Linked DNA regions of Homo sapiens: region 1 is reported to be linked to region 2. The links are microRNA targets in miRTarBase. Many come from high-throughput screens and were not tested one by one. Region 2 holds a microRNA gene; the other region holds the end of a gene's coding sequence.

Evidence for each region. The annotated mature microRNA hsa-miR-4776-3p reads CUUGCCAUCCUGGUCCACUGCAU and lies in region 2 at 1,876-1,898, shown strand. An mRNA with a match to its seed (bases 2 to 7 or 8) in the 3' UTR can be bound and repressed. Matches are read on the target gene's strand: a 7mer-m8 pairs with bases 2 to 8, a 7mer-A1 pairs with bases 2 to 7 and ends in A, and an 8mer does both.
Region 1: miRTarBase lists MMUT as a target of hsa-miR-4776-3p. Seed matches in the 3' UTR shown: 7mer-A1 at 773-779.

Annotation. Positions count from the first base shown.
Region 1 is chr6:49,429,034-49,432,033 of GRCh38, reverse strand. It overlaps MMUT (methylmalonyl-CoA mutase), which reads left to right. Exons shown (of 13, transcript NM_000255.4): 13 at 178-1,674. The coding sequence ends at 306. Among named protein-coding and RNA genes, the nearest start is that of MMUT, 33 kb to the left of the region's middle.
Region 2 is chr2:212,923,797-212,928,158 of GRCh38, reverse strand. MIR4776-2 (microRNA 4776-2) reads left to right here and starts at 1,823; the gene lies at 1,823-1,902. MIR4776-1 (microRNA 4776-1) reads right to left here and starts at 1,902; the gene lies at 1,823-1,902.

The sequences.
Region 1 (3,000 bases), not on the chromosome of region 2:
TGCTGATGACTATTAGTAGCACTCCCAATCAAGGAAGAATTTTTTAGCCCCAAATGCCAGTAGTATACCAGTTGAGAAGGTTTTGGGTAATTGAGTGACAAAGAAGAAAGGATAGGGTTTTATTTCCGTGAAAATGGAAATAGTGGCTCTTATTAATTAAACACATTCTTTCAACAGGATTATGAATTTCTGTTTGAAGTTGGTGTTTCCAATGTATTTGGTCCTGGGACTCGAATTCCAAAGGCTGCCGTTCAGGTGCTTGATGATATTGAGAAGTGTTTGGAAAAGAAGCAGCAATCTGTATAATATCCTCTTTTTGTTTTAGCTTTTGTCTAAAATATTATTTTAGTTATGATCAAAGAAGAGAGTAAAGCTATGTCTTCAATTTAATTTCAATACCTGATTTGTACTTTCCTTGAAAGCTTTACTTTAAAATACCTTACTTATAGGCCTGGTGTCATGCTATAAGTATGTACATACAGTTTCACTTCAAAAATAAAAAAAAAATCCCTAAAAACTCTCTATACTCTCTATAACAATACTTTATCAAGAACTCTGGACAATGGTATTATTTTTAAAAATCATGGTGATGTATTTATTAGAATGTTTCTTATAAATCTGTTTACTTTTTATATTAAGAATTAAACTGTACCTAAAAAAACTCTGACTATTCCCATTTGTCAGTTTAGCATTACATTGTCTTGAGCACCAGAAAATAAAATCCATATATTAATAAAAACCTATCTTGAAAAACTAGTGGAGTGTATTTACGTGGCAAAAGAGATTTTGGGAGGAGTCCTCAGCCAAATTCTACCAGAATCACCTTAATAAAAGAAGTATTAAAATCAAGCACAGCAGGTTGGAATATGGGGAATTTGACAGTATATTTCTTCAAGTCTGAGTTTACTTTCTTCCTGATCATGACCATCTGACCTTGTTATTTCTGGGCTTGGCTCAAGACCAAGGAGAGTGGATGTTGATGAACATTCCTTTAAATAAAAGTGCTTAGGTTGTAGTTATGGCTTTGTCTAGAATGGTGATGTCAACTGTGAGTGTAGGTCTGTGATATAGAAAGAATTCAACTTTCCAGATCTAGAAAGATGCTACCTTGCATAGATTTGCTCCTTAAACATAAATTGCAAAAATAAAAATATCACAGAGAACACCTGTACTTTGCTTACTGAAAGATTTGCTCACTAAAGAAGGAAAGTTGCCATTTACCTGTTTAACAAATCTGCACATCCTGCACATGTTCCCCAGAATGTAAAATAAAAAAAGTTTAAATAAAAAAGGAAAGTTGTCCTTTATTGTTAACATGATCCATTACATGAATATAACATAAATAATTATCTTTTTTAATAAATTTCTATTGTATTAGATCAGAGAGCAGTCTTTTGGAAAGTATTATAGATACATTACTGTAGAATTTACAAACTCATTGTAATACAATGTATTTAATTTTCAGAATATGATTATCTGAATGGTATTGTCATGATTATTGTTCCCATTTTCAGATGAACACTGACTTCAAGTCCAATGATATATTCACTATGCCATTTTATTGACTTTTCCTTGTAAAGCAATGCACACTAATTTAGTAAGTATTTGGTTTCTGTGATGTGTTCAGTTGCGTGCTGGGTGACATGTGAAATAAACTCATCCTTGAGGAATTTACAGCTCTTGACAGTATCTTTTGAGTAGACTACTTTGGGAGGAAGAATAGCAGCCACTTGCTACCAAATTTCACATCCATTGTGTGTGTGTGTGTGTGTGTGTGTGTGTGTTTGTGTGTGTGTGTTTACCCGAAGTCAGAAGTACTGGCTCCAATAACCTTACTATTGAAAACCTATTTTCTGAAATATCCAGTGGCATAACTCATAGAAATGAAATCTGGCCTGACTCTAAGATTAAATTTTCTCATTATTATTAAATCGAGAAAGTGTTAAAACTTAAACACTTTAGTGTTATTTAGATTCCAAAAGATTCCAAAAGAAATTTCATCCGACCTTTATTACTATCCTTATTTTTGGATGAAAACTTGTATGCCCAACAATGAGCTGACTTTTGGAAATGATCAGGAAAATAACCAAGTATATTAAAAAAGTGGATAGATATTTTATACAGATAAGCTATCCGATATTCACCAAATAGTACAAGAAAATAATTAATGGATCAGGAAGACAACTACTTTCCTCATTTCCTTTCATCGAAAACATCTGATTCAAAATAGAAGATTCCAGCACAACCAAAACATACTGCACAAAGCAATTTAACTTACTGATATGTGTTGTTTCACAGGTGAGCACTTCATCAATCTAATAGTGCCCAATCTTAGTTACAGTTATTTCATCTTTGATAAGATTATATTTATGATGCATGATGCCAGTGAGGCAACTGACAGAGATAGGAAGAAGATTTTGCATTCATAGCCAGTGTGATCTAGATATCTTTGCTTTGTTTATAGGCTAATGAAGAATCAAGAGTTCATCTGTGAGAAACACACCATATACACATATCCACACCTGAACTGAAGAAATAGGGAACTCAGGCATTAACTAACTTAAACTCTTACCAATCAGGGTTCAGAGAAGAAGAATCAGTAGGAGACGTGTGTATGAGTGTGTGTGTGTGTGTGTGTGTGTGTGTGTGTGTGTGTGTTTATGAGCCGGCTGGAACCCCACAGGCATAAGCTGAAGCTTGTTTTCTTCAGGGAACCAGTCAGGAAGGAAGATAATAGACGGAAGGGAGAGCAATTGTTGATTCAATGACTGGAGTCTGGGCTCAGGAAAGGTTCAAACCCTTTTTATTATTTTTATTTTGTATTTTTAAATTATACTTTAAGTTCTAGGATGCATGTGCAGGACATGCAGGTTTTGTTACATAGATATACATGTGGCATGGCGGTTTGCTGCACCCATCAACCCATCATCTAAGTTTTTTAAGCCCTGCATGCATTAGGTATTTGTCCTGATGTTCTCCCTTGCCTTGCTCCCCAACTCC
Region 2 (4,362 bases):
AAGATCCCACCTTTACTCAATAGTGCTTAAGGGGTCATGGAGGAAGATTTGATTGATTGTTTTTTATGTATACAAGGGGCAGGCCGGGTGCAGTGGCTCACGCCTGTAATCCTAGCACTTTGAGAGGCTGAAGCAGGTGGATTGCCTGAGCTCAGGAGTTCAAGACCAGCCTGGGCAGCATGGTGAAACCCCATTTCTACTTAGATACAAAAAAAACCAGCCAGGCATGATGGCTCCCGCCTGTAGTCCTAGTCCAGCTACTCGAGAGGCTGAGGCAGGAGAATTGTTTAAACTGGGAGGCAGAGGTTGTAGTGAGCCGAGATCGTACCACTGCACTTCAGCCTGGATGACAGAGTGAGTCTCTGTCTCCAAAAAAAGACAGAGTGAGACTCTGTCTCCAAAAAATGAAAGTATACAAAGGACAGTTGTTTTACCCAGAAAGGAAGAAATAAGAAAGTCAATTATTAGAAATTTGTTTAACTGGCATGTGTTGAGTTCCTATACCTTATTAGATACATTTGAACATTCTTTCATTAAGTTCTTAAAAAATATGAATTAGGTATTATTTTCATCTCCCATCTTACAGATAAGGAAACTAAGATTTAGAGAGTATAGGTCACTTGCCCAAGGTCACGGACTACTGGGAAGCAGGGACATGAATTGAATCAAACTCTTTTCAAATCTAAATTCAGTGCACTTAATTTCTGTGTCATGCCATCACACTTTCTCTCCATGAAAGCTAATTTCTCTTTTAACATTAGGTTTTATAGGTAGTTCTACTAATTATGTTTGTGAAGTTTTGTTTTCTTTTCCCTTCACAAGGGCTGGACACAGATCAGCATTCTCATGTTATGAATGATTTAGCTTCGGATTACTCTTCTGCAAATGGAGGGAGGAGGCAAACCTCAAATTAAAGGCAGGGTTGGAATATAAAAGTCTCAGCTCCTCAAGAGTCCAGAAAAACCTCCTCCCAAGAGTGCTGTGGCCTCTTGGCGCCTCTCCAGGCCCAGCCTGCCTGCAGGACTTGCTTGCTCCATCTTGCCGGTTCTCAACGGAGAACTCTTTGTTTTGGACCCTGTTCTTGTATTCTGCTCAGTGGACTTGAAAATTGGAAGTTTCCTTGCTTCCTGGTCCTTCCTGTGCCTGGGAAACAGACTTGGAATTCTTCTTTTCTTCTCTTCATTCAGCAAAAAGACAACCCCACCAGTTACCATTCCTTGTATTAGTTCTTGGAACCCAGCCTGGGCCAACAGTTAGGCCCCCTGAGAAAAGAAGCCTAACTTCATTTGCCTAGTCCTTCCCTCAATAGATTAAGAAATGAAGAGAAAAAAACCTTCTTAACATATACTACATAATACTAATATTTACTTTAAAAAAAAAATAAAGGCTTAACCCCTGCATTTTCATCACTTGAGAAAATTGATATAAGCTAATATTTTCAATAATTTAAAGAAAATAAACCATTTCTTTCCTGCTCCCCTCCCCTTCTGAATATTCGGCATAAATAGTTGCTTGGGTAGAATAAATTCTCACTATTCATTGGTTTGAATGCTTGTGTATATCCCAAGGGTATACACAATGACCTCTACACACATGACCTCTGTTTTACATAGTCAACTTTTATTTTGCTGAGGCAGAAATAATGCATGCAGCAAAGACTGCCAGCTGTTTACCAAAATCCCTTCTCCTCTTCTTCCTGAGCACACAGCTAGACTATACTTCCCAGTCTCCATTGCAATTCTGTGTGGCCACATACTAGAGCTCTTGCACTGCTGTGTTTTTGCATCCCCTTCTACCTTCTGGCTTCCTGAGATGGAGCAGACTATATGCAGTGGACCAGGATGGCAAGGGCTCTACTGTCCTTTCAGGAGAGCCCTTGCCATCCTGGTCCACTGCATATAGCCGAGCTCCCACTGACCTGGAACCCTCATCCTGGACTGTTGTCCAAAAGAGAGATAGATGTGTTTTTCCCTCAAACATGAGAAGCTGAATTTGGCGGTCTATTTGTTACGATATCATAGCCTGTCCTAACTGAAACAGGGCACATGTAGTATGTAGCACAAGTTTCTTAGCTAGTGAGAGTGCTTAGCAGAAGCTCAGTGCCTGCCCTTCACCAAGATTTGAGGTTTCCTACTCATGGAGTGTCATCAGTAACTCTTGCCAAGTGATAAATCTTTTGAATATTGGTGGAATATGATAACACAAAGTAAACTAACCCCTAAATGTTGGTAGCAAAAGTAAAATACAATTGAGTGTGTCTTAGAGGGCAAAGGTTCTTGGCTAAAAGGTGGTTGTTTTCTAGAGTTTAACAATAAAATACCAAACTCATATTAGAAATAGGAATAATTTTACCATATGCTCCACATATAGAAAGAATAAAAAACTCAATTCTGGAACTGTTTCACCAAATGCTTCAACCAGAATTTTAAAAATAAATATATAAATAACTATGGTCCTGAATTTATAATATTAATGATATGTAGGAATAATTTACATTTTTTGATTTAACTCACAACATTTCAGGTAGAAAATTATATGGTATATATATGGAAATTTAATGATTTACACACACCCACACTTACATATATACCGACATACAAAGTTATCACCTTATGATATATTCCTTCTAAATATTATTTGTTTGATCCAAACTCTAGGATGAATTTACCTTCTTAATTCTCTAAAACTATGATATTAGACCACATATTTTTGCATCTTAAATTGTAAAATTTCAGAACATAGAGAAAAGAAGAAAAGAGATATAAATGATATTTATTCAAGACTATTGAACTCATGTGGAAAAATAGTCCCCCGAGGACGTCAGGTCCTAATCCTTAGAATCTGTAAATACTACCTGATACAGAAAAAAGGTTTCTGTCTGTAGGAACCTAAGAAAAGACATTTTTAAATTAAAAACAATTAAAACATTAAAAATTTAAGGTCTTTATAGGTATGATTAAGTTAAGGATATTGTGATGAAGAGGTTATCACAGCTTATTAGAATGGGCCCTAGATGCAGTCACGTATATCCTTATGAGAGAGAGGCAGAGGGAGAGCTGACAACGAGGAGAAGGCAATGTGATCAGGGAGGCAGATGGGAGTGATGCAGCCACAAGCCAAGAAGTGCTGGCAGTCCCATGAGCAGGAAGAGGAAAGGCCAGATTCTCTCTTAGAGTTCCCAGAGGGAGCATGGCCTGGCTAACTCCTGGATGTAGGCCTAGTGAAACTGATTTTGGAGTTTTGTCCCCTAGAACTGTGAGAGGATAAGTTTATGTGGTTTTAAGCCATTGAGTTTGTGGTGATTTGTTATAGCAGCCACAGGAAACTAATCCAATTCCATTTTCTAACAGCTGAGTTCAACTTTGCTAAGTTTATATCTGTGATATTTTATCCTAAGTCTTTGGGGACCTAAGTTTGTTTTCCTTTTCCTTGGCCTGGAAAAGACAAATGTCCCACCCATTGTATTACATGTTGTTGAATGTCTTTAGTGAGCTCAAGAGAGGGAACATCTCTCTTCTCCAGCTGAGTCTGAGTCATTGAAAAACAGAGTAAGATAGATAGAGAGGAAATTATCAATTTTATCATTGTTAAAGTTGATTTTGGAGGATCGCCTTACTATCACTGAATCTCAGATTTAGAGAGACTTACCTACCTTATTTCCAACATTAGACAATGTACTCTAAAATGTAGGGTCTGAAATAGCAGAGCAGAAAGTATGCTTTCTCTATGCACATAGCTCTCAAGAGAATGAGGAGGTAAAGGGACTCAATAACATTAAATGATTCCCTCTTCTCCTGAGAACAGAGATGTCAGGACTGCTGTGCTAGTGGAAATCTTTTTATATGGAAAGAAGTGCTGGGAGTGGAGATGAAACATTTCCTATGGTTCCATCTCCTTATGGGCCAAGATTGACAGCTATCTGTGGGCAGAAACAGTGACACTCTAGGCTTTACAAGCCGAGTGGAAGACAACTTAAACCATAGATAGATAGTAAAGTCCTAGCTGCTCTCAGCTTAAATGTGAATTTTGGACTTGGGACAGTGTTTAAGATCCTAAATGAGTCTGCTGAAGTCTAGTTAAGTCCTGAATATCCCCCGATTCACACATGGACCTTTGTTTGTTAGCATATTCCACCCACCTCTTCTTTTAATCTGTTAAAGGAGACTTCTGCTTTATACAATCAGGTAATAAAATCTGTCTTTATAAATATACTTGTTAGTATGCATTTAGAAATCTAAGTCCTCACTCTTTTATAGACAGGCACTAATAGGTTACCTACTTTTTTCACCAAATGATTCTTACTTGAAAATTAAAAGAACATTGCATTTAGTGTTAAAAGCCTGTAACCTCAACATGAGGTCT